Regions from separate parts of the Homo sapiens genome. Here all the other regions are linked to region 1. Evidence: fine-mapped expression QTL. A gene starts in region 1. Each other region holds a variant in brackets. All regions are shown on one strand. Distances are between the middles of the regions. Region 1 holds the start of OGFRL1 (opioid growth factor receptor like 1). Region 2 has its middle 72 kb from the start of OGFRL1. Region 3 holds the start of LOC124901338 (a long non-coding RNA gene).

Region 1 (8,284 bases):
CAGCAAGTCTTGTCTGGTCAGGAACTCTATGTGAGGTTGTACATGCTGTGTCCTGCATGAAGAGTTCAGTTAAGGTGGTGGGAGGGAACTCCAGTTCAGGCCCTGCTCACTAAGCCCTGGAGCAAAGGTGTCTTATTCTCAAGAACACAAAGTTCTCATGGGTGCTAGCAGAGGCCCTTGGCTACAGTCAATGGAAAATAATATTACAGCATGTTACTACTAATTTCAGATGTTTCTTTAGAGAGCCATCTTTATTATTTTTAATTTTTAAAATAATACTATTTTTTTTTCCTCCAAAGATTTCAGGTTCCTGTGAGGTACTGAGGAGTTAACTCCTGAGGTTGGGGAAAATGGCCCTTGATCTGCCCTTTCCTTTTATTTGAAAGACTCTCAAATTATGTAATAATAAACCTTTGTTAATGTCCCTAAAACAGGATTGACTATAAAAGACAATTCAAGATATGCCAGATACATTTGGGTTTCATCCAAAAAAGTTTAGTTCCTGAAGCACCAGTTTCTTTGTCCTTTGTAAAATGGCCTCACCCTTAAAGGATTTCATAACGAAGTTGAAAACAGAGTTATATTGAAGCATGGCTATAGCATCTGCTTAATTTAGAGCAGATTCTATTTACAGGGAGTCAGAAACTATATTATAGTCCATTGTGATAATAGTTTCTCCTTGTTCCATACATGTGTATATTACTGTTGAATTATATGTTCTTTAAAGACATATTGAATGAATCATCATTACAGCTAACATATATTGATAAATTAATAGATGCCTGGCACTGAGCTAAGTGATGATTTTTATATGAAGCAAAGGTACCCTTCTTTACTGTTGATGCAGGAATGTTAAATACTCTGCAAGGCAGGGATAATGAAAAAAGTTTAGGTATTCGAGAAGGATAATTCCTGTGTATAGAAGCTTGGGATGACAGAACTTCAGCATTAACTTGTAAAAATAACACATAGATTGGGCACAATGTGGTCGTGCTTATTGCTCTAAACTTAAAATTGATTAAATATTATATAAGGTTGGTGTTACGCTTCATGTAAAATTATGTTCTTTAGAAAATATATTGCAAAATCTGGCATATCATCTATGGTCCTATAAAAATTGACACATTTTTCAAAAGGTGGTGTAAAAGGGAAGGATTTAATTGCAGTAGTTACTTAAATGTTTATATGCACAAACACAGATACTTCTCACCATTCCATCATCTACTGATGTATAACAAACTACTACAAAATTTAGTGACCTAAAGCAACAGCCATTTTATTGCATTTCACTCTTCTGTGGGTCAGAAATCTGAGCAGGGCTTTGCTGGGTAGTCCCTTTATTCCAAGTAGGGTCGATGGAGGTCACTGAAAGGTATTCAGATGGTGGATGGGTTGGTCTGGAGGATTCAATAAAAAAAAAAAAACAAAAACGTGGAATCCAGCAGGGGATACTGGAAGGTAGGCCTCAGCTGGTACCATGACCAGAGGATGACCAGAGGCCACACACAAGTGGCCTTTCTAGGAGTATGGCAGTCTCAAGCTAGCTGAACTTTTTACATGGCAGCATGGGGCTAACAGAGAGAATATTCCAAGAGACCCAGTGGAAAATGCAAGGTTCCTTATGGCTTAACTTAGAAAATCCTGGACTATCACTTCTTTCATATTCTATAGTTAAGCAAGTCACTGAGGCCAGCTCCTTCAAGAGTAAGGAATAAGACTACTTCTCAATGGGAAGAGAGCAAAGAACATGTGGCCAACTTTAATCTACATACACCTAAACCAACAGATGGAGCGCCTGGGACACAACAACTATCCTTAGACTTTCCACATCAACAATCTCGGAACACTTAAGGCTGGATGGACAATATCTACTTCTGCAATGTGTTCCGGTCTTCTACCAACGGAAAATCGAATTCCCAGCTTTGAGCAGTTGGATTCCTGTGGTATGTGGCTGCCCCACATCTTCTTCTGCTAAGCCATTATAATCAAAAAGTATTTTTTTTGGCGGGGGGTGGGGGCAATGGAGTCTCACTCTGTCGCCCAGGCTGGAGTGCAGTGGCCTGATCTCAGCTCACTGCAACCTCCACCTCCCGCGTTCAAGTGATTCTCGTGCCTCAGCCTCCCAAGTAGCTGGGATTACAGGCGCCCGCCACCAAGCCAGGCTAATTTTTATATTTTTTTGTGGAGATGAGGTTTCGTCATGTTGGCCAGGCTGGTCTTGAACATCTGACCTCAGGTGATCTGCCCGCCTCGGCCTCCCAAAGTTCTGGGATTACAGGCGTGAGCCACCGCACCCGGCCCCAAAAGTCTTTTTGTGCACCCCGTGTCTATTTCTTATTAGTTTCAGAGCTTTTCCCAGTCATAGGATCACAGAAGGTCAGAGCTGGAAGGGCTCCCAGAGATCTGGTTTCATTTTACAAATGAGGAAGTTTAGGTTCATGTGACCTACTTAAAGTCAGAAACTGATTAGTGACAGAGCTACAGCCTAGATGTCTTGTTGCAGTGCATGAAGAGCTTAGGTAATCCTGATTTATCCATGGAATAGGCAGCTGGTTTACCTGATTCTTCCCTTAGAAACAGTCCATCTAACATGATTTGGCTTCCTACTTCATCATGAAACATTTGAAAAGAAACTATTCATTCCAAGTTCAACAGTTTAATCTTCAAATATCTAGCTCATCTTTCTTAGTCCATATTTAACAAATGTTTACTGAGCATCCACCAAGTTGACAGCACTGTAAATACAGACACACTTTCAGACGGGGGCTGCCTGCAAAGAGGCTTCCCTTCTAGTTAGAAAGCCAGAAGACACATTTTACAACAGTCACTTTTCTCTGGGTCACATATTTGATAATACTACCTTATCTTTACGTACTTCTATAGGCTTATGCCTGTAATCCCAGCTATTGGGAGGCTGAGGCAGGAGAATTGCTTGAAACCAGGAGGCGGAGGTTGCAGTGAGCCGAGATCGCGCCTCTGCACTGCAGCCTGGGCAACAGAGGGAGACTCTGTCTCAAAAAGAAAGAAAAGAAAGAACAGAACAACAGAACAGAACAGAACAGAACAGAACAGAACAGAACAGAACAGAACAGAACAGAACAGAAAAAAGAAAGAACTTCCCTAACACAGTTCTCCCTCCTCCTTTCATTTGCAGAACAGACCACAGGGCCGAGGCTTCTTCCATTAGAAACAGCCCATCTGTTCTACTGATTCTGAGATTTTTGCCTACACGGAGCACCAATTTGTAGTGGGTGTAAGGTTACCCGCAAATCAATGTGATGGTCCAGTTGTTACTGTTCCTTTTGTTTCACGAGCGATTGCTCATTAGATGAGGTGACTGATAGCTCTGACTTTTTCTAGACCACAAGGACTCTAGGTGGCTGCCCTAAGTACAGTTGTGGCAGCTGGGATTTCCTGTTTATATGGTGCCCGGCACCATCAGCTTTTGTCCTCTGCTGCAGCTAAAGTGTCTTCCTCCTGGACCAGGGAGAGGGGGAGGGGGTGTGGACAGGACCCGCCTGCTGACGGTGACACCTCTTCGACACCACGTCCACGCCAGTCCTCAGCTCCAGGAGCTGGGCGGGATCCCTCATCCCGCTCAGCTGGGAGATGCCCCGGGAGGGCGTCCCCCGGCTCCGGGCGGCGAGGGTAGTAGCCGACCCCAATCCACTCCGGGGGCCGCCGGGGGCCGCGTGAAGGCAGGTGTTCCGGGGAGAAACGTGGAAGGGAGGCGCGGCCTGGGGCCGGTGGCGCTCGGCTGGGGGCCGCAGTTGGCTCCCCTGGGGGCTCTGGGCGGCGGCAGCTCCCGCCTGTGGGGAGGAGAAGGAGCCGGATGGGCGGGTTCAGGCGCGCGCGGCGGCGGTCCCGGGGCCGCCGGCTCCTCCCCGCGAGGGTGCCTGTCCGCCGCTCGCCGCGCTGAGGCAGTGCGGGGCGGGCGCGCCTAGGCTGCCGCCCAGCGCCCTCGCCGCGGCCATGCCCGGGCCCTAGAGCGCCTGCCGCAGCTTGCGCCCCGCAGCCCCGCAGCCCCGCGCCCGCCGCCGCCTCTTCAATGGGCAACCTGCTCGGCGGGGTCAGCTTCCGCGAGCCCACCACCGTGGAGGACTGCGACTCCACCTGGCAGACCGACTCGGAGCCCGAGCCCGAAGAACCAGGGCCGGGCGGCGGCAGCGAGGGCCCGGGGCAGGAGTCCGAGCAGCCCGCGCAGCCCCCGGAGCAAGCCGGCGGGCGGCCCGGCGCCAGCCCCGCGCCGGACGAGGACGCCGAGGCGGCGGGCGCCGAGCAGGTACGCGGCCCAGCGGTGGCCTCGGGTCGGGCTGGGGCGCCCCGACACCCCAGAGGGGCAAGTGCCAAGCCGCCCTCGCGCTCGGAGGCCAGGGGCGCCAGGTGGCTGCTCGCCGCTGCGACCCGACCCCTCCGCGCCGCGGCTGACCTGTCTCCCGGTGGAGCCCGGGGGCCTGCAGGAGCCCAAAGCGCCGGACCCTCCCACTGCCGGCCTGGGGCCTGGCCGAGGGCACGGCGAGGAAGTCCCTCAAGGCAGAACCCAACTTGAATGGGTGTTTTCTTTGCCTCTGCAGAGCAGCTGGATTATGCGAAGGTGGGGTGGGAGGAACCTGTCTAAAAATAGAGGATTTTGACAACCCCTCTAGTGTGTGTTATTGGTAAAAAAAAAAAAAAAAAAAAAAAAAAAAAAAATTACTCAGAATAAGGTGGGGCTACAAGTGCAAGCAGCCAGCGCTCTCCCCTACAGTGGGGTCTAAGCCGTCAGAAGTGTAGGCCCTCATCTGAAGTTCATACGTCACTGTTCTGCCCAACTCAGGCCTTTCAACCTAGGATTCAGGGCATTCTTCACGAATCTTATTTCACCAGAAGACTTGTTGATCCAACTGTGTTTGAACTGTTTGACTAATACAGCTTGGAGGAGAGGTTAGTCAAGAGATAAGCCCCTTAACCTCTGATGGACTGAAAATAATCAGGAACTTTAAAAAGGAGGAAATATGTAGCCGACCCCCTGAAGAAGTGTGCATCCTGGAGGTGGTTCAGGTTTGCCGCTCCACATTAGGCCCTTCTCTTTATCAGCTAGGGGCGATGGAGATTGGGAAAATGGAGCCCAAAGTCCAATGTGACCACAGGGTTTTGGGGGAATCATAACCTAAATATTACAGCTAACACCGCCTCAGCCATCTTGATGATCAATTCTATTTAGGTAAGGAGGAAATCATAAAGTCTTAGTGCAGGCTCTGTGTTAAACGTGTTATTTAAATGAACTACAATTTTGGGGTGGGTGTTTGCTGTGTGGTCTCCATTTTAGAGAAAACTGAGGCTTAGAGAGAAAGGAAAACTTGCCCAAGATCACTGAGGGAGAGGATGATGCAAACCCAAGTCTATCTATCACTGATATCAGCGCCTTGGACCTGTGGAATTCTGAATTTCCATCTGCCCCTGTGTCTGGTTTGCCGCTGTTGTTTTGCATTGCTAATTCAATCTTATTAAATTATTAGATGCTGCATTCTCATGTTTTTCCCTTACGTTTGTCTCCCAATTAAGTAACCTCCTACAGAAATTTGGAATATCAAAAAACACCAGCTAAGATTCAATCCAACTAACCAGGTCCATCTATATAAAACATTTTAATAATGTTCAGTCAGTTAACTGCAACCCCAGTAACTAGTAGACTACACCAGCCCTCCCTATTCCCTTTTAATGATTAATTTTTCTTGTTAGTATCACCATCTGACTTCCCCAAAAAATCTGCTTTTCAATTTTGCCTTTTGACTGCCAACCCTATTTGTTGTCTATTCCTCAGAGTCAATCCACTTGCAGGTAATACTGGAGCTACTTTTAAAGCGTATCCCAGACTGACTCCTTCACACCACTTCCATTGCATCATCCTAGTCCCTCTGAATACTGAACAAATGATGGTGACATTAACCAAGACAGGGAAGTCTAGGGAGAATGCAGCTATGGAGGTTAAATCAACGATTCTCTTGAGTTTGATATCCTATTACACATCCAAGTAGAGTTGTTGGGTAGTTAATCATTTGTTGGGTAGTTAAATTACATCTATGAATGGAGACAGTCCAGGACTAGAGTCCTCAGCATCTGAGATCAATGGTATTTAAAGGCATGGGAAGATAAGGGGTTATCAAGGAGTGATGACGACTGAGGACCTTAGGCACCCCTCCATTTAGAGGGTATGAAGAGGAGGAGGAGCCAAAAAAGGAGGCTGACAAGGGGAGCCCAATGAGACAGAAAGTAAACTAAGAAAGTTATAGTAGCCTGTAAGCCAAATACTGACAGTGTTTCAGGAAGGAGGGATGCTTTAATTGGCCCAGTTCTGTTGGGAGGTCACCTGAGGTGAACATTAAGAAATGGTTTGGCAAGATGGAGACTTATTGGTGAAGTTCACAAGAACTATTTTGTTGGAGTGCTGAGGACAAAAGCCTGATTGAGGTGGGTCAGGGGAAAATGGGGAAAGAAAAGAAGGAAACAAAGTATGGGCAATTCTTTGGTGGTGATTTGCTATAAAAAAGGAGTAGATATATGGATCTGTAATTGATGGTAGGCCTGGGTCAAGGAATGTTTTGTATGTTTATTTTAAGATTAAAGATACTACAGCATGTTTGTTTGAGATCGAGAAGAGAGGGAAATTTTGATGATCCAGGAAAGAGGAACAATATTGAACAACAGAATCCTTGTCTGAGCAGGTGAAAGGGGTCTGGGTAGAGAGTCCAAAGGGAATAGGGGTTGGAAGAGCAGGAGCAGATGCTGGCAGGACACAGACATTCTTATGATAATCCTGAGAAATAGGTAGGGCTTGAGTCATTATCTTTATTTCAGAGATGATAAAACTAAGATTCAGCTAAATGATTTGCTTAAGGCCTCACAAATACAAGTAAGCAGCGTTCAGATTGCTAGTCTTCTGACTCCAAGTCTTGGGCTACTGATACTACACCAAGGTTTCCATATATCCTTCATTTTTTAGTGTGACTGAGATTGATTCAGACCTGGACTTGGGACCCAGAGCCTGGGATTCTTGTTCTTGCACTGTCACTGGACTCTGGGTGGTGTGCAACTTCTCTAAGCCCCTGATATCTTGTTTCTAAGATGGAAACACTTATTAACTGTCAATCAGGTGTGTTTTAAGAATCAAATGAAATAATGCCTTTTGACTGTCAACCCTGTTTGTTGTCTATTCGCTATATATGTAAGTGCTTTGTAAATGGAGAGTGCCTTCTATACAAATGTAGGATGATGATTCATATGGTTGTATCTCAGGCTAAATAGATTCAGAAACTTGCTAGGCAGAGCTATTTTGAAACGTGTGGCAAGGACCAGAATTCAAGCTTTTCCTTGCTTATGTAACATGACAGCGTAACTAATGTTAAGCATCAGAAGATTTGATGTTGAAGTAACTCGGTACTTGTAGTAATAGTGAGAATCACACCACTTCAAAAATGTGTGAAAATTACTTAGAGGATGCCAATCTGTCAACACAGATGGAGGACAGGGGTTGAGGAGAAAAGAATTTGGGGCAAAGCTTTTAATGACTCTTAAAGGTCTAAAGTTTTTCTTTTTCATGATTGTCATCAGCACTTTCTCATACATTATAATAGTACATATAGGGAATGCAAATCGATTATTTTAACCCACATCTTATACTTTAAAAATCAGTTCATGGTGATAGGAATTTTACTTAAGAGTTTGAACAGTATGAGTAAACTACCATGTATAAGTTGTTTCAATTGGACACCATTCCATTTAAGAGCATTTTATTGCTTTGTGTGTATATATTTTAAATGTTTATATCACATTGTATTATCATTCAGTGAACAGATGATTATTCATGCCTTTGTGTACTTGTCATGGTATTATAAAGGATGGAGTTTAGAAAGCTAGTTTGTTTTAAAATCCTTTCTTTTCATAAATATTACTTGACTTCCAAGTACAGCTAAATGTTGCAAATTTAATGACAATTTTCTTTGTAGAATTGATTTAGTAACTTAACACATTCTTAGTATTATGTAAAATATTCTAAAATAAGTTTTATCATAGAATCACTTGCATAATCATCTGGTAAATAAATGTCTTGAATTCCTTTTTGAGTTCCATTTTTGATGGATATTGATCCATAACATTGGCCTCTTAGGTTTTTGGTTAATAATAAAGTGTTTTATTCAGTAATATATCTTAGGACAAATGTTATTGGTTCAAATAAGAAAAATAGGATGCTAAGAAATATTGCTAGTAAGCGTTATTAAAGGAATATTTATAATATTTTCATTAA
Region 2 (8,284 bases), 72 kb before region 1:
CACTTCCCTGGCTCAAGTGATTCTCTCACCTCAGCCTCCTGAGTAGCTGGGACTACAGGTGTGAGCCACCATCCCTGGCTATTTTTTGCATTTTTTTGTAGGGGTTCTCCGTATGTTGCCCAGGCTGGTCTTGAACTCCAGGCCTCAAACGATTTGCCCTCCTCGGCCTCCCAAAGTGATATAGGGATTACAGGTGTGAGCCACCATACCCAGCCAAATGGGGGGAATTTGGACCCAAGGAGAAGATACACACATGTAGGGAGGACATCATGTGACAATGAAGGCAGAGACACAGGCGATGATTCTACAAGCCAAAGAATGCCAAAGACTGCCAGCAATCCAGAAGCTAGGGAGAGGCCTGGATCAGATACTTTCTTACAACTCTCAGAATGAACCAACCCTGCTGACCTTGGTTTTGGACTCCTAACCTTCAGAACTGTGAATCAACCTATTTCTATTGTTTAGGCCACCCTGCTTATATTACTTTGTTATGGCAGCCCTAGCAAGCTAATAGAGGATTGTTCATGGTTAAACTTTTAATATCTTTCTATTATTTACAAAGATAAGACTATATGTTTTGGGTAAACCAAATATGTTAAAATTTTCTGGGAAGTCAGTTAAAAAATGGAAATAAAACATATATATTCCACCAAAGTAGAGAATAAATGAAATAAAAAGATGAACCCCCATCAGAAATATGGCAGATTACACCTCTGGGGCAGGAAAAGTACAGGATAATCCAGGAACATCTTCATACCAGAAAGTAAGGAAGCTCTCAGAAACTCTACTCAGGGGCTCATAAAGTCATTTGATTAAGCTGCTCTGGCCAAAGATGGGAAATGTCATGCCTCAATAAGGATAACAACTGCAATGCATTAAAACATATCAGATAAATATAAATCCAGAAGTTTGATTTGATACTAATTATTTATGATTTATAGAAATAAATAAACTCATTGGCTACAGCCTTTGCAGGGTCTAGAAACTATCTCAATATTTTGAAAATAAATTTAAAAAGAAAGAAGAATAAGTTCTTTATTTCCTAAAAGTGTTCCTGAGGCTTCAGACTATGAAAATAATTATTGTGAGAGTTTCTCTTTGTATACCTATTCCAGGAAATAAATGTACAAGAAGTTGTCCAAATTGACCTATCATCACTTTTAAAAACTCCTGATGAATGCCTGGGTCTAGGTAATGATCACCAATGGCCCAGCTTCAGCAATTACCAATATATGACCAATTATTCTTTATCTAGATCTTTACTTATTTCCTCCTAAACAATCCCATCTCTACCACCACCAGGTCACAGATTATTTTGAAATGGTCTTCTTTTAGGACAACCTCAATGCCATCATTACATTTTTAAAAATTAAAAGTGAATCTTCAATAAAAGATATTCAATAAATGTTCCCATTTCCCTGACAACTTAATTCCTTTAACTTAAAAAAAATTCAAATAAGGGTTCTATTTCACAGTTACATTTCAAAATGGCTAAAGGAGAAGAATTTGAATGTTCCTAGCATAAAGAAAAGATAAATATTTAAGGTGACAGATATCCCAATTGCCCTGATTTGATTATATGAATATGTCAAATTATGACATGTAAGCAGAAAATTGTATAACTGTTATGTATAAATAAAAAAAACAAAAATAGATAAAAGAATAGTCAAAGGGGCCCCATGTAATTCAAGCCCAATTATTTTATTTTTTAAAAGACTCAATCAATCATAAATAGTCTGAAAAGATGAAAGAAGGTAAAATTTCAGGGAAATGAAAAATAAGATAGAAATATTCAGATTTATCGATAGTAAAAACCCAGTTTTAAAATTTATGTGGAAGAAAAATAAGCCCAAGATTATAAAGGCAATTTGAAAACAAAGGGAGGAGAAAGAAAAAGGAAGTAATCTACCAATACAGAAACCATAAAAAAGAGAGAAATCAGATGTTATATATGTCCTGGTAGAAGTGCAAAATACCACATACAAGATAGTCTTGCCAAAAAAAAATTGAGCCTTAATTTGATTGAGGTTCTTTTAGTTTATAAAACAAAAATAATTAAGGAAGTATGGAATTGGTATAGGGACAGACAAAACAGTGGAACAGGATAAATGAAGAAAGGTACTCATATATGTTAATATATGATGAAGATGCCATTGTGGATAAAGTAATGATGAATTATTCAAAAAAAATGAGCTATTTAGGAAATTATCAACTTTTGAAAAATAAAATCAGATTTCAGATCCCTATTCCATATCACATACAAAAATAAACTTCAAATGGATTAAAAATATATAATCTAACATATGCGATATTATGTTATAATGTAGTTAACATAATGTAACATAACATAATACCGATATATCTATATATCTATTTATATATATAAAATGAATTCTGGGTAGAAAAGGATTTCTTTCTTTCTTTTTTTTTTTTTTTTTTTGAGATGGAGTTTCATTCTTGTTGCCCAGGCTGGAGTACAATGGCATGATTTTGGCTCACTGCAACCTCCACCTGCTGGGTTCAAGCGATTCTCCTGCCTCAGCCTCCCGAGTAGCTGGGATTACAGGCACCCACCACCACATCCAGCTAATTTTTTGTATTTTTAGTAGAGACAGGTTTCACTATGTTGGCCAGTCTGTGAACTCCTGACCTCAGGTGATCCGCCCACCTCGGCCTCCCAAAGGCCTGGGTTTACAGGTGTGAGGCACCGCGCCTGGCCCAGAAAAGGATTTCTTAGATAAGACTTAAAAGACACAAACCCAAAAGAAGAAAGATTAATTAGATTTGACATTTGTATCTTTTATCAAAGTAAAAAGGGATTATATTTACAACACATATTAATGATAACTGAATCAATAAAGTTGATCTCAATCAATTTAAAAAGGTGAATTGCATATAAGTAAAATTGTCAAAGGAGATGAACCAGAAACTCACAGAAGGCAAATCTAAATGGCCAGTAAACATAAAATGAAAACTTCAAAAATAATTAGGGAAATTCAAAATAAAATAATAAGATACCATTCACATATATCCAATCAGGGAAAATAGAGGAGGGCTGCAATTCCAAGTACTGGTGAGAAAGCTGAGCAATACTAATCAACAAATCTGCTTCCAAGTGTATACCTAGAACAGAAACTCTATTACATATACAACAGACATGTACAAGAACATGTATAGCATCATTGTTTGTAAGAACAAACTATTGGAAATAAACACCCATCATAAGCAAAACTGATAAAGAAAAATTGTGTATAATCACAACAGACTACTATGTAGCAATGAAAATTAATACAAGGGTCAACATGGACGAATCTCATAATGTTAAGGAAAGAAACAAAATCAAGGAAAAAATATACATCATGATAATAGTTATATCAAGTTTAAATATTTCCACAAATATATTAACTAAATTGCTAAATACAAAATTTAGCCAAAAATTATTAAATATAAAATTCACAGTAGTAGTTATTGGTTGGGGAGAAGTGGGCGTGTTCATAACAGGCCTTAAGTAGATTGGTAATATTTTGTTTCTTAATATGGGTGGTGGGTATATGGGTATCTATTATACTATAAACTTTTATATGTATTAAGTATTCTATGATTAATAAAAATATTAAGAAGCATGGGTAGAAAAACATGAATATAGTCACTGAGTTTCTTAAAAGTGCTGGATACTATGCTAGACACTGGAAAGGAATATAATGCTGAATGAGAAAGACATAGTTCTTAGCTTTACAGACCTTGGAATCTATCTGGGAAAACAGACATTGAACAAAGAGTTGCCACCATTCCAGATGTCTTGCTATTTCCCAAACACATGATTTTTTAACGAATTATTCTTTTTTCTATACCCTGCCTGTACTTCTCTTGACCCTTCTTCTGCTGTGCAGGTCTCTGTGACTGTGCAATTTTCCCTGATGACCCCTGCAGGATTGATCTTGCCTTCTTTCTGATATCGCTGTGCCTTTCCTTTTAATCTCTAGATGCA[G/A]TAATCAGTTTTCCTTTCTGTCTCTGCCAACTATCTGTGAGCTCCTTGAAAATAAGGACCACTTACTGTCTATCCACCATCATGGCACATGGTAGGTAACATATATATGTTTAATAGCTGTGTTGACATGTAAAAAGTGAAGTACTAAGGCACTTATATGGATAACACAAGTTTCAAATAAAAGCACAATACAGAAGTCCTTTGCCTCAAAAAGTCAGATACTGTTGAACAAAAACTTATTTTAACATAGCAAATATAAATACAATTGTAGTCACCACTAAAGGTGATTTTTTACTTGCAACAAGAAATAACTTACTTTAGCCCATTCTCTTTTTGGAGTTTTCTTTGTCAAAATATTGACTTTCCCTTGTGTATAGAACTCCATTTATATGCCATCAAAATAAGTAGGTTAATGGGGAATTCAGGAAATTTTGATTAAAACATTATCATTCAAGGACTTTTTTTTCTACCTTTGATTTATGCAGAATTTTGTTTATTATTGGCCACTTTGCTTGGAAAAAATACTTTTTTATATAAGTATGTCCATAAGAAAAACACTAATTTTTTTTAGTTAGCATTTTTCTCCTCACATTGATACATTGTGAGGCTTCTCTGACTTGCTTTATATGTATAAGGATTGATAACTTCTTATAGCAATAATTTTTTTTACTGTAAATTTGGTTACTACTTCAGATAATGTGCTACCTTAGTGTAGCATAACTTTTTTCCCAAACTACTTCCAAGGATTAAGTCTTACTAAATACAATTTTCAGAAAAATCTTTTAATAATTATCCTGGGGCATCTGTGATTAAAAAGACCCCCATATGTTATTATTAAATTCACTTGTATGCAGAAGCAACTTGAAATTGAGATGACAGTTTTGCTATTACATGAATTTGGCCAGAACATACTATAATAACTATATTCTCTGCTGCCCTGTCACTAAAAATTTTTTCAAGATTTTCTACACCAAAGAATTTCTAATCACATACACATTTAAGAAAGTACTACATTAGAACAAATACCTAATGCATGTTTTTTACAATCATAAAAACACAGATGAATTTAGTTTTCCATTATCCTGCCAGTGACTGGAACCTGGCTTTTGCCCTGAGACTTGATCTCACAAAGACATATCCTCTTCCTATTTCCAGGACTTCTGTGGCTTTTATTAGACCACCCCATCAACACAGAGAGAAGACAGCCATTTGCTACATATAATTCAAAAGAATTTCTTCAAGACTTTTTTGAGGTAATATCAGAAAGTTTCCTTGATCTCTGCATTAAAAGAAAATTGGATCTTAAAGTTAACTCTACAGAAATGCACCCTTTGGAGTATCACAAATAAAACAGGTTTTCTGCCTGGGGACAGTTGTCTATTGCCCTAGCAGGTTGCACTTACTATACTATGGAAAATGAAACACTACTACATTTATCTGTCTGAAAAATTGCCCCAAGAAGGATGTTTACTATCTCCACTATTATTTCATGTTGAATTGGGAGTGTTGGACATTGTATTCAGATAAGACAAAACAAACAGGGGCACAAGAATGGGGAAAAATAAAGGAATAAAACTATGTCTATTTGCTACTGATGAGATAATATTCTTGGGAAACCTGAGATAGTCAGTAATAAAATGAACATATACATAAATTTGGTAAGGATACAATTTTATTATATGAAAATCAATAATCTCATATATACAAACAATAACCAGTTAGAAGACATAATGGAAGAAAAACCCCATTTACAACAACAAAAATATAAAATAGGAATAAACTTAAAAAGAAATGTGAAAAATCTACAAGGGAAACTTTAAATACACCTGAAAAGGGACAAAAGCAGATTTTAATTAAAAGAAATTCTTGTGTGTGTGTGTTTGTGTGTGTGTGTGTATGTGTGTGTGTGTTTTGAGATGATGTTTCACTCTGTCACCCAGGATGGAGGACAGTGGCAAGATCATGGCTCACTGCAGCCTCAAACTCCTGGGCTCAAACAGTCCTCTTGCCTGAGCCGCCGTTGGGACTACAGGCATGTGTGACCACAGGCACGTGCAACCCTGCCTGGCTAATTTTTTGAATTTTTTTTGAGAGACAGGGTCTCACTTTGTTGCCCAGGCTGGTCTTGAACTCCTGTGCTCAGGCAATCCTCCTACCTTCTCCTAAAGTCCTGGAGATTACAGGCATGAGCCAGTGTTTCCGGCTGAAATTCTTTATTCTTACATAGAATGACTCAACATAAAAAAGTTAATTCTCCCCAAGTGAATATATAAATTAAATGTGATCTAACAAAAATCCAACAAGTTTTATTTCTAGAGCTGTATAAGTTGATTCTAAGGTTCATATTGTAAAATAAACAAAAAAGTAGCTAGGAAAATTTATTCTGAATAACGTTTTACCAATTACCAAAGTTATACAAACTTCTGTACTTAAAATAGAGGGTACAGGTGCATACAGAGACACATTAGTAAAAAAAAAAGTATTATAGCAATTTCAGAAAGAGAAACAAGCACATATAAAAATGTAATATATGATAAAGATGGTGTCTCAAATCACTGAGCAAACACAGGCTTTTTTTGTTTTTATTTTACTTTAAGTTCTGGGATACATGTGCAGAACGTGCAGGTTTGCTACACAGGTAGACATGTGCCATAGCGGTTTGCTGCACCTATCAACCCATCATCTAGGTTTTAAGCCCTGCATGCATTAGGTATTTGTTCTAATGCTCTCCCTCCCCTTGCCCCCAACCCCCCAACAGGCCCTGGCGTGTGATGTTCCCCTCCCTGTGTCCATGTGTTCTCATTGTTCAAAAACACAGGCTTTTTAATAAATTATGTTAGAACAACTGGAAAATCACCCTTACTTTACATCATAGACGAGAGCAAACTCTAAATGGGGCAGACATCTAATGTCAAATATGAAACAATATGCTATGGTTTGAATATGTCACTTCCAAAACTCAGGTGTTGCCAATGTGATAGCATTAAGTGAGGCCTTTAAGAGAATATTAGACCATGAGGGCATTTCTTTTAACAATGGGATTAAGGCTTTATAAAAGAGGCTTTGCACAGCATTTGGCTTACTTGCCCTTTCATTTCTTCCACCATGTGAGGATACAGCACATCTCCCCTTTGGAGGATGCACCAACACAGTGCCATCATGGAAGGAGAGATAGGGCCCCTTATCAGACACCAAGACTGCTGGGACCTTGATCTTGGACTCTCAGCCTCCAGAACTGTAAGAAATAAACTTTTTGTTCTTTATAAATTACCCAGTCTCAGGTATTTTGTTCTAGCAGCACACACTGACTAAGATACCACACAAGGACTGGAAGAGAACTGGTGAAGTTTTTTAGTAAGCTATGGATAAGTTATGACTCAAGTTCCAGATACAATAAAAGACTGATACACTCAAGTACATTAACAAAAAAACAACAACCTCTGAATGACTTAAAACACCATAAACAAAGTCAAATGACAAATGGTAGATGGGGACAAAATATTGGCTATGTTTATCTGTCTCAAAAATTTCCCTAAAAAGGATGTGCACCATCTCCACTATCATTCCATGTTGCATTTATCATAGATAAACACAGGACTTGTAGCTCTAACATACAAAAATTTCTTAAATAGATTTTTCAAAATCTATTTAAGAAATGAGCAAAGGACACAACCAGTTCACAGAAAAAAGGCCCTCAAATATATAACAAGTTTTATAACTTCTTTCATAATAAGATAAATACAAATGGAAACTTCAATGAGATACCATTTCTCGCCTATTAGAATTAAAAAATTCAAAAGCTCGATAACACATTTTGTATACAGGGCTATGAAAAACAGGTTCCCAAATATTGTGGATGAGAACGCAAAATGCTACAGTCTCTATGCAGGGAAGTTGGCTTTATCTAACAAAATTACACATGTGTTTATCCTTGGCACAGCAGCAATTCCCACTTGTGGGAATTAACCTGAAGATACACTTGCTCGAATGTGAGGGAAAAAACTAACAACATATGCACAAGGTTATTCACTGAAACATTATTTGTAACAGCAAAGTATTGGCAACAACCCAAATGTTCAATCACAGGAAACTGGTAGAATAAATTACGATGAATTCACACATGGAATACTAGTCACAATAAAAATAAAAAAGATTAAGAAAGACCTCAATTGATATGAAGTGATTTCCAGGATACACAATAATTTGGAAAAAAATCACCTAAGTATATGTAGTATACTACCTTTTGTGTAAGAAAGGGAAATGAGATGATATTTATGCATTAGATAGGTAGAAAGA
Region 3 (8,284 bases), 54 kb before region 1:
CTATTTTGTACTAATATTTTTGTACAATGCATTTGTGTTTTAAGCTAGATGTTATTTCAAAAGACTCAACAGGCTGGGCTCGGTGGCTCACGCCTGTAATCCCAACACTTTGGGAGGCCAAGGCGGGTGGATCACAAGGTCAGGAGATAGAGACCATCCTGGCTAACACGGTGAAACCCCGTCTCTACTAAAAAAAAAAAATTAGCCGGGCCTGGTGGCGGGAGCCTGTAGTCCCAGCTACTCAGGGGACTGAGGCAGGAGAATGGCGTGAACCTGGGAGGCGGAGCTTGCAGTGAGCCGAGATGGCGCCACTGCACTCCAGCCTGGGCGACAGAGCAAGACTCCGACTCAAAAAAAAAAAAAAAAAAAGAGTCAACAACTTAAAAGTTTACAAAGTAAAAAATATTATTAGTTTATAAAGTAAAAAAGTTACAGTAAACTAAGATTAATTTATTACTGAAGAAAAAAGTTTTAAATAAATTTACTGGAGCCTAATTCTACGGTGTTTATGAAGTCTATGGTAGTGTGCAGTAATATCCTAGGCCTTCACATTGACTCACCACTCACTCATTGGCTCACCTGGAGCAACCCTCAGTCCTGCAAGCTCCATTCATACTAAGTGTCCTATACAAGAGTACCATTAAAAAACAAACAAACAGACAAACAAAAAAAAACCTTTTATACTGCATTTTTACTATCCCCTTTCTAAGTTTCGATAGGTTTAGATATGCAAATATTTACCATTATGTTACAATTGCCTACAGTATTTGGTTCATTAGCATGCTGTACAGGTTTGTAGCTTAGGAGCTAGGCTATATGATATGGCCTAGGTGTGTATTAGGTTATACCATCAGGTTTGTGTAAGTACACTATTCCCACAGTAAAGAGATCAATCTAAGGATGCATTTCTCAGAATGTATCCCTGTCATTAAGCAATGCATGACTATATTCTCTCACATTTAAGAATATCTATTTGTGGTATTTATACTTGAGTGGAATCTTAGTGGAATACAATATTTTTGGATCACATTTCTTTTCCTTTAGAACTTGGTAGACATTGCTTTATCATCCTGTAACCCAGAATGTTACTCCAGAGAAGATTGAGTCCAGTCTGCTTTGCTCCCAAATATAAGAGGCTTATTATTTGTCTCTGGATGGCTAAATAATTTTTTCTTATTCTTAAATTCAGTAACAACAGAATATGACTTAGGAAAAATAGGGTTGAATATGTTTGTCTTGGAATATGATATGCACTTTTGAGTTGCAGAGTGTCTTATTCTTGCATTACAGGATTATTTTTCTATTTTCTATTGGAATACTTTTTCTGAGTCATTTACTGGTTTTTCAATTCAGAGATACCTATTATCTTTATATAATGGCATATTTGTCACTTCTCTCTAGCTATTATCTTCTCTCTATTTCTACTAATCTGTTCATCTTTTTCCGTTGATTTTACTGTGCTTATCTCAAGCCTTTTCTTTGTAGAGCAATTTATTTTTCAGCCATGTCCATTAAATTTCTTTCTGCATGTAATTTGTTTATAAGTTCTGTAATGGTGTTATTTTAGTTTCAATTTGTTTCCTTATATTGTCAATTTCCATTTTTACATCATTCTGTATTGTTATCATCTTACATTTGAGCTTGTATTTTATTCATTTCATGTACTTAATAAGATTTTCTATAGCATGAATATTTCTCTGTGTTCTTTGTTGCTATAGAGTTCCTTTCATTCTTATTTTTTGTTCTGCTTACCTAGTTCTCATGTCATCCTTTTTTCATCTTGTTCATATTTTCAGTGAGCTCTGCATCTGAACTCTGTTTTTTGTTCTGGTATAGATTGAGTGAATTCCCCTTAGGTCCCTTCCCATATTAACTGAATGTGAGGGTATTTCTCTACAAGATGTAGCTTGAGAGCTTGTAATTGATTTATACTCACTTCTAAGTAGCCTGAGGGTTTAGGTGTGTATGTCTTGGAAGATAGGCAGGAGTAGGGAGAGAGCTAAGCTAGGGCTAGGTACAACCAAGTATTTCAAATATTCTATATTCTTCTAGCTTTTTCTATTTGACCTGTTTTTTCTTCTTTTTCTTTTTTATTTTTGACCTTTTTTCTTATTGAAGTGTTTAACGTATCCTACTATAGTTCTGGATTTGTCAGTTTTTGTAATCCTATCAGTTTTCTCTGCCTAGTGCGATGTTATGTTTAAGTGCATACAAGTTAAAGATTATTTTATTGGCTTGGGGATTGTTCTGTATTATTTTATAATGCACCTGAGATGGTTTGCTGTGTCCTCATCCAAATCTCACCTTGGATTGTAGTTCCCATAATCCCCACCTGTTGTGGGAGGGACCTGGTGGGAGGTAATTGAATCATGGGGCGGTTTCCCCCATGCTGCTGTTCTCATGATAGTGAGTTCTCAAGAGATCTGATGGTTTTATAAGGGGTTTTCCCTCTTTGCTGGGCGCTTCCTTCTGCTGCCGCCATGTGAAGAAGGATGTTTTTGCTTCCCCTCCCACCATAATTGTAAGTTTCCTGAGGCTTCCCCAGCTATGCAAAACTATGAGTCAATTAAACTTCTTTTCTTTATAAATTACCCAATCTTGGGTATGTCTTTATTAGTAGCATGAGAATGGACTAACACGTCATCTTACTATAAATAATAAAATAGGTTTAATAAAAGAGGTTTAATAAAAACCTCTTAGTTTTTCAAAACTTTATGTTCAAAATTTTCTTTTGGTTTGGTGTTAGGTGTGCCTTTTATTAACCAGGATACAGCAGGATTTATGTTATTATTATCCCATCTCTGCCTTTTAATAGGTGAATTTTATCCACATTGACTCTGATACATTACACTTTTGGGCTTATTTGTACCATTTCCTTTTGTGCTATCTACTTACCTTTCACTTTCTTTGCTTTTTTGCTGTGTTCTGTTGGATTGACAAAGGATTCTGCATTTTTCTTTTTCTTCCTTTTTTTCAACTCCTCTACTTTCTCCTTCTTTTCCTCCAAATCATTCTATTCTTCCTCCTTCTTTTGATTCCTCTGGAGGTTTGAAAAATATCAAGATTATTTCTATTTCTATATTGGTAACCCTAAGATTATGCCTTATTTTTCTATTTCATGTATAGCAAATACATACAGATGAGCACACTTATATGCAGAAATGTTGATTTTAATATATTTTCACAAAGTAAATACATCTGTGTGACTATAACTCAGATTAAGACATAGAACATTGCCAATACCCTGAATCGCCCTCAGTATCTCCCTTCTCTTCTTAAGGTTAACCATATCTGTCTTCTTTACCATAGATTAGCTTTGTCTGTTTTGAACTTTTCATAAATGGGATATGACATGAACTCTGCATCTGGCTGCTATTGCTCATTCTTATGTTATTAGACTCATCTATGTTATTGATTATATTGATGATTAATTTACTTTTATTATTATGAAGTATCCCATTGAACGAATGCACCACAATTTATTTATCCATTCTACTCTTGCTGGACATTTGGATTGTTTCTAGTGTTTGGGGATTACAAATAATGCTGTTTTAAACATTCTCTAATTTCATTTCATTCTTTGTACCTGCCTTTCATTGACATTTCATTTACAACTCTGTTGGGTATATACCTAGGAGTGAAATACTGGCATTACTGGGTTGTAGGCTATGCTTATGTTTAGTTTTAGTAGTTACTGCCAAATAGTTTTCTGAAGAGGTTGTACCAATTTATATTCCCATGTGTAGTGCATAAAAGCTCCAGTTGCTGCATATCCTCAATATATGGTAATACCTGTTTCTCTAGATTTTACCTATTCTGATGAGTGTGTAGCTGCATGCACACAATTTTTAATTCATTCATTACTAATGATTTTGAGCACTTTATATGGCTATCACCCATTTATGTATTGTATTTCATGTATTACCTGTTCAATATCCAAGTTTATTCCAATTTTTTAATGGATTGTCTGTCTTTTATATGGCTTCACAGAAACATTTAATATGTTTTGGATAATAATCTTTTGTCAGGTAAAAATATTGAAAGTATCTTTTCCAGTTGGTGGTCTTCTCTTCCACTATTTGTGTTAGTCTATTCTCATGCTGCTGTGAAGAAATACATGAGACTGGGCAATTTACAAAGAAAAGAGGTTTAATTGATTCACAGTTCTGCATGGCTGGGGAGGACTCAGGAAACTTACAATCATGGCAGAAGGCATCTCTTCACAGGGTGACAGGAGAGAGAATGAGTGCAAGCAGGGGAAATGCCAGACACTTATAAAACCATCAGATCTCACGAGAACTCTCACTATCACAAGAACAGCATGGAG[G/A]AAACCACCCCCATGATCCAATGACTCCCTACCGGGTCCCTCCCATGATACATGGAGATTATGGGATCTCCAATTAAAGATGAGATTTGGGTGGGGACACAGCCAAACCATATGACTATTTTACTGGGGTTTTTGATGAACAGAGGTTCTTAATTTTAATTATGTCCCTTTAATCACTATTTTTCTTTAAAAAAATTTGCCCATCTTAAGGTCATAAAGATATTCTCTCTTATCTTCTTGATGTTTAATTGTTACTTTTCAGGTAGGCATATACCTCCAACCCTGAATTGATTTTTGTGTGTCATGTGAGGTAGGATGTCAAAATGTGTTTTTTCCTCATATAGATAACCAGTTGACCCAAAATCATTATTAAAAATACCATTCTTTTTTCATTTGCATTATGCTTTATCATGAAACAAATTGTCACAAATGTTTCTATTCTTTTCCATATTTCTATTTGTCTATTTTTATGCTAATGCAAAACTGTCTTAAATATCATCACTTTGCAATACATCTTGATAACCCTTAGAGGGATTTTGTCCTTCTTCAAAATTGTCTTCTCTGGTCTTGGTCCTTTACATTTCCATATATAGATATATTCAATTGTTAATTTCCAATAAAAATATTTTTAAGCTTTTAACATACAAAGCTGTGAATTATATATTAATTATAACTATAATTTTAAAAATATCTGAAATTATCTAGTATTTTTATCCTACTCAGAAACCCAAGAACCTAAACAGGAATATATTATAGATTGAGAATCTATTTTCCAGCACCTTGTTTGTGTTGCTAAGTTATTTGGATATAATATTCTAAATTTCCAGTTTCCCATCATTATATTGAATTTATTTCTCTATTGTTTCATGGCATCTATGGTTGCTAATGAGAAGCCCACTTGATTTATTGTTTAATTACCATTTCTTGTTGTAACCTGTTTTTCTCCTTGTAGCTGGTAAAAACATGTCCAAATTCTTGATGTATTCCAGTTTTACTTTGGTAAGTCTGGGTATGAATATATTTTTGTAGATCCTTCTTGGTTTTTATAGTTCATTTTCAATTTGAGGACATATTTTTCTTCAATTTTGGAAAACTCACAGCTCTTTTCTCTCCAAATATTACTTTCTTGTGACTTTTTCCTTCCTTAAAGAAAAATAGGCAGTCCTATTTGTCTTCAGACTATCCTATATAGTTTTAGGTGACCATACAACTATTGCCTAATAAATTATATTTATATAATTATGTTTATATAACCAGAGCCCCACCTAGCCTCTGTTTTCAAACCTGGCTCCAGTCTGCTAACTTCCATGGAGCACCTTCACTTCTCCTTCCCTGATTCTCAGGGGAGATGCATTTGGGAGTTAAAAGAAGTGCCACTAATAATTATATCAGGACAACAGATGTAAATTGGAACTCTCCCAAGCATACTACCCTGTGTGATCTCTCTGCTTAGCATTCTTCCATATTTTATTCTCTATGCTGTCTTCTGGGTAAATCCCTCAGTAATATTTTTCAGTTTATTGTTTTTCTTTTGTTGCCTCTGTTCCAAAGTTTACCCTATCTTTGAATTTTTTATTGCAATGAATAGATTTTTAACTCCCAAGATGTCTAATCATTCTGCTTTTTAATTTATTTGGCTTGTTTCATATCTGTCTGCTTTTCACATTTTATGTTTTTTTAAAAAAAGTGCATAGTTTTTTCCATTTTTCCCCTTAAGCATTCAAAGCATATTTATTCTTAAGTTTTGGCTAGATCAGTTTAATAAAATTTCACCTGGAATGAAATTATGTTCCAATTGTTGATTTTTGGCAGGATTACTTTCACAGCATTAGAATTCTCCCGCTTTGAAATTCTGTTTTGCAGCATCATGTTGAATGAAATTGCTCCCCTTCTTTCTCTTTCTTCAAATTTCTCTATCTAGCAGTTTTGCATTTCCTTCTCCCAAATTCCTGAACCCTACCTCCAAACCTAGTGCTGTATGACATTGCAGAACACCTGCCCTTGGTCTCAGCAGGCATATGATATCAGGCCCCAGGCCAGGTGCATTTAGCACCCTTCCTCAAGTGCAATGTGTGTTAGTTCTCTTGTTTCTGAAGTTCTCTGCAAAGCCATGGCCCCAGGGAATGGTTGGCTGCAGATTTTTAACCTCCTTTTACCAGAAGGAGCCTCATCTAGCCTCTGTTTTCAAATCTGGCTCCAGTATGCTAATTTCCATGGAACACCTTCAATTCTCCTTCCCTGGTTCTCAGCTGTCACTGCCTACTTCAGGACAAGAGCCCAGCATGGCTGTGGCCTCAGCTATGCTCAGTTCTGCATTTCTTTTCTATTTCTGGTGCACAGGAATGCTTAATAGGCTTTGAACTCAGACATGTGTTTCGGGTGTTTTCTTTTATATTTTTATATGCTTTTTGCTGTGTTGTGTTAATACATTAAAGCATGAACTAACTGCTCTAATTTGACCAGAGTGCATAAAATGAACAAGTAAATTGTATTTATCATAAACTAAAACAGGTGATTGTAAAATATCCCAATTTACTAAATTTGGAAGCCTTTTAGAGACAGATTTTCCTTGTACATGTCTCTAAATTACTTTCATAAATGTGCAATAGTGGTAGTACCAATGGAAAGAACAGAACCTTTTGTCCATAGGATCATTTAAAATTTGTTTGTGTGCTACTCGGGAGGCTGAGGCAGGAGAATTGCTTGAACCCGGGAGGCGGAGGTTGCAGTGAGCTGAGAACACGCCACTGCACTCCAGCCTGGGTGACAGAGAGAGACTCCATCTCAAAAAAAAAAGAATAAAAAATAAATAAATTTTTTTGTGTATGAATCTGCAATTATTTCTATTTTCTAAATTACATTATTTGGAAATCTAGGAGCTGAAACACTTTTTGGTGCTATAGGACATTATGACTTGGCTACTTTGAAATTAGACATATTTTACCCAGCTAAAAGAGACACAATATTAAATTTTCCAAGTAAAAATAATTACATAATCTGAAAGGAAAATAATTGAAGAGAGAGAGAGAAAGGAAGAAAACAAAAGGAAGGAAGGAAAGAAAGAAGAAAGGAAGGAAGGAAGGGAAAGAAAGAAAAAGAAAAGAAGGAAGTAAAAATGAAGGAAAGACAGGCATATTCATTCCAGTGCTTTGAATAGTGTATGGCCCTTAGAAAATATTTGTGGAGAAAAATGAATGGATAAATACCTGAGCCTCACTCCATTTCTGGTTAGCACCCTTGTTGTAGAAGGAATGGGACAGGGAGCATACTATGGATGTATCCAGGGTGAGGAAAGCATCAGGACTCACAGATAGGGTAATGGATCAGGCAAGTGTGAAAGTGAAGGATAGAGTTAGCATAATTGTCAGGGTGTTTGTTATTTTATAACCCGATTGTAAAAACAGGGAGTTTTAAATTTGGACATTTTATGTGGTTCTAAATTTTCTGAGCTCAGCTATGAATAAATGTCACCCTTCCCATTTGGAACCTATTACTGAGCTATACTGACCACTCAGAGATGGGAAGAGACAGGCCAGTAGTGTGAGGTTGTACATGAACATCCTGCACACTGTGGAGCTGACATATATGGAGTAAAGAATGCACGAGTCACCCTCCTTGTGCAGTCCTGGATTGTGGAGACTGAAGAGAAGGTTCATTCAAGGCTGTCTTGGAATAGGTGGTTCAGTGTTCCCAGAACACATAGCTTTAGCAATCCTTATTCCATCCACATTTCTAGAGAAACAGAATTTTTAGAGAAAGGGAATAAGGTTGGGCATTAAGGAATCAGCCAAGCAGAATGACTCTGGTTGCAAACAATACTGTGCGAAGGAGCTAGGCCAAGAGCAAACCCATCAGCATTAAAGACTTTGTATGAGAAAGACAGGGAGGTGAGTTCCATCACAGCTCCTATTGGCTTTATTGCTTTTATTTTAACATTAAAATGGGTCACATTTGCTT

What was found. PIP is the estimated chance that this variant, and not a neighbour inherited with it, causes the effect.
Region 2: its variant is the best candidate, but not a certain one, in a credible set for the expression of OGFRL1 in cerebellum (GTEx, PIP 0.55).
Region 3: its variant is the best candidate, but not a certain one, in a credible set for the expression of OGFRL1 in blood mononuclear cells (TOPMed, PIP 0.52).

What each region holds. Positions count from the first base shown.
Region 1 is chr6:71,284,889-71,293,172 of GRCh38, forward strand. It overlaps OGFRL1 (opioid growth factor receptor like 1), which reads left to right and starts at 3,923. Exons shown (of 7, transcript NM_024576.5): 1 at 3,923-4,282. The coding sequence starts at 4,049. It overlaps LOC124901339 (a long non-coding RNA gene), which reads right to left. Exons shown (of 6, transcript XR_007059640.1): 4 at 1-52. RefSeq lists a silencer at 3,576-4,635.
Region 2 is chr6:71,212,627-71,220,910 of GRCh38, forward strand. No RefSeq gene overlaps it. Among named protein-coding and RNA genes, the nearest start is that of OGFRL1, 72 kb to the right of the region's middle. The variant G/A (reference allele first, on the strand shown) is at 3,989.
Region 3 is chr6:71,230,618-71,238,901 of GRCh38, forward strand. LOC124901338 (a long non-coding RNA gene) reads right to left here and starts at 4,155. Exons shown (of 3, transcript XR_007059632.1): 1 at 3,926-4,155; 2 at 2,896-3,040. The variant G/A (reference allele first, on the strand shown) is at 4,328.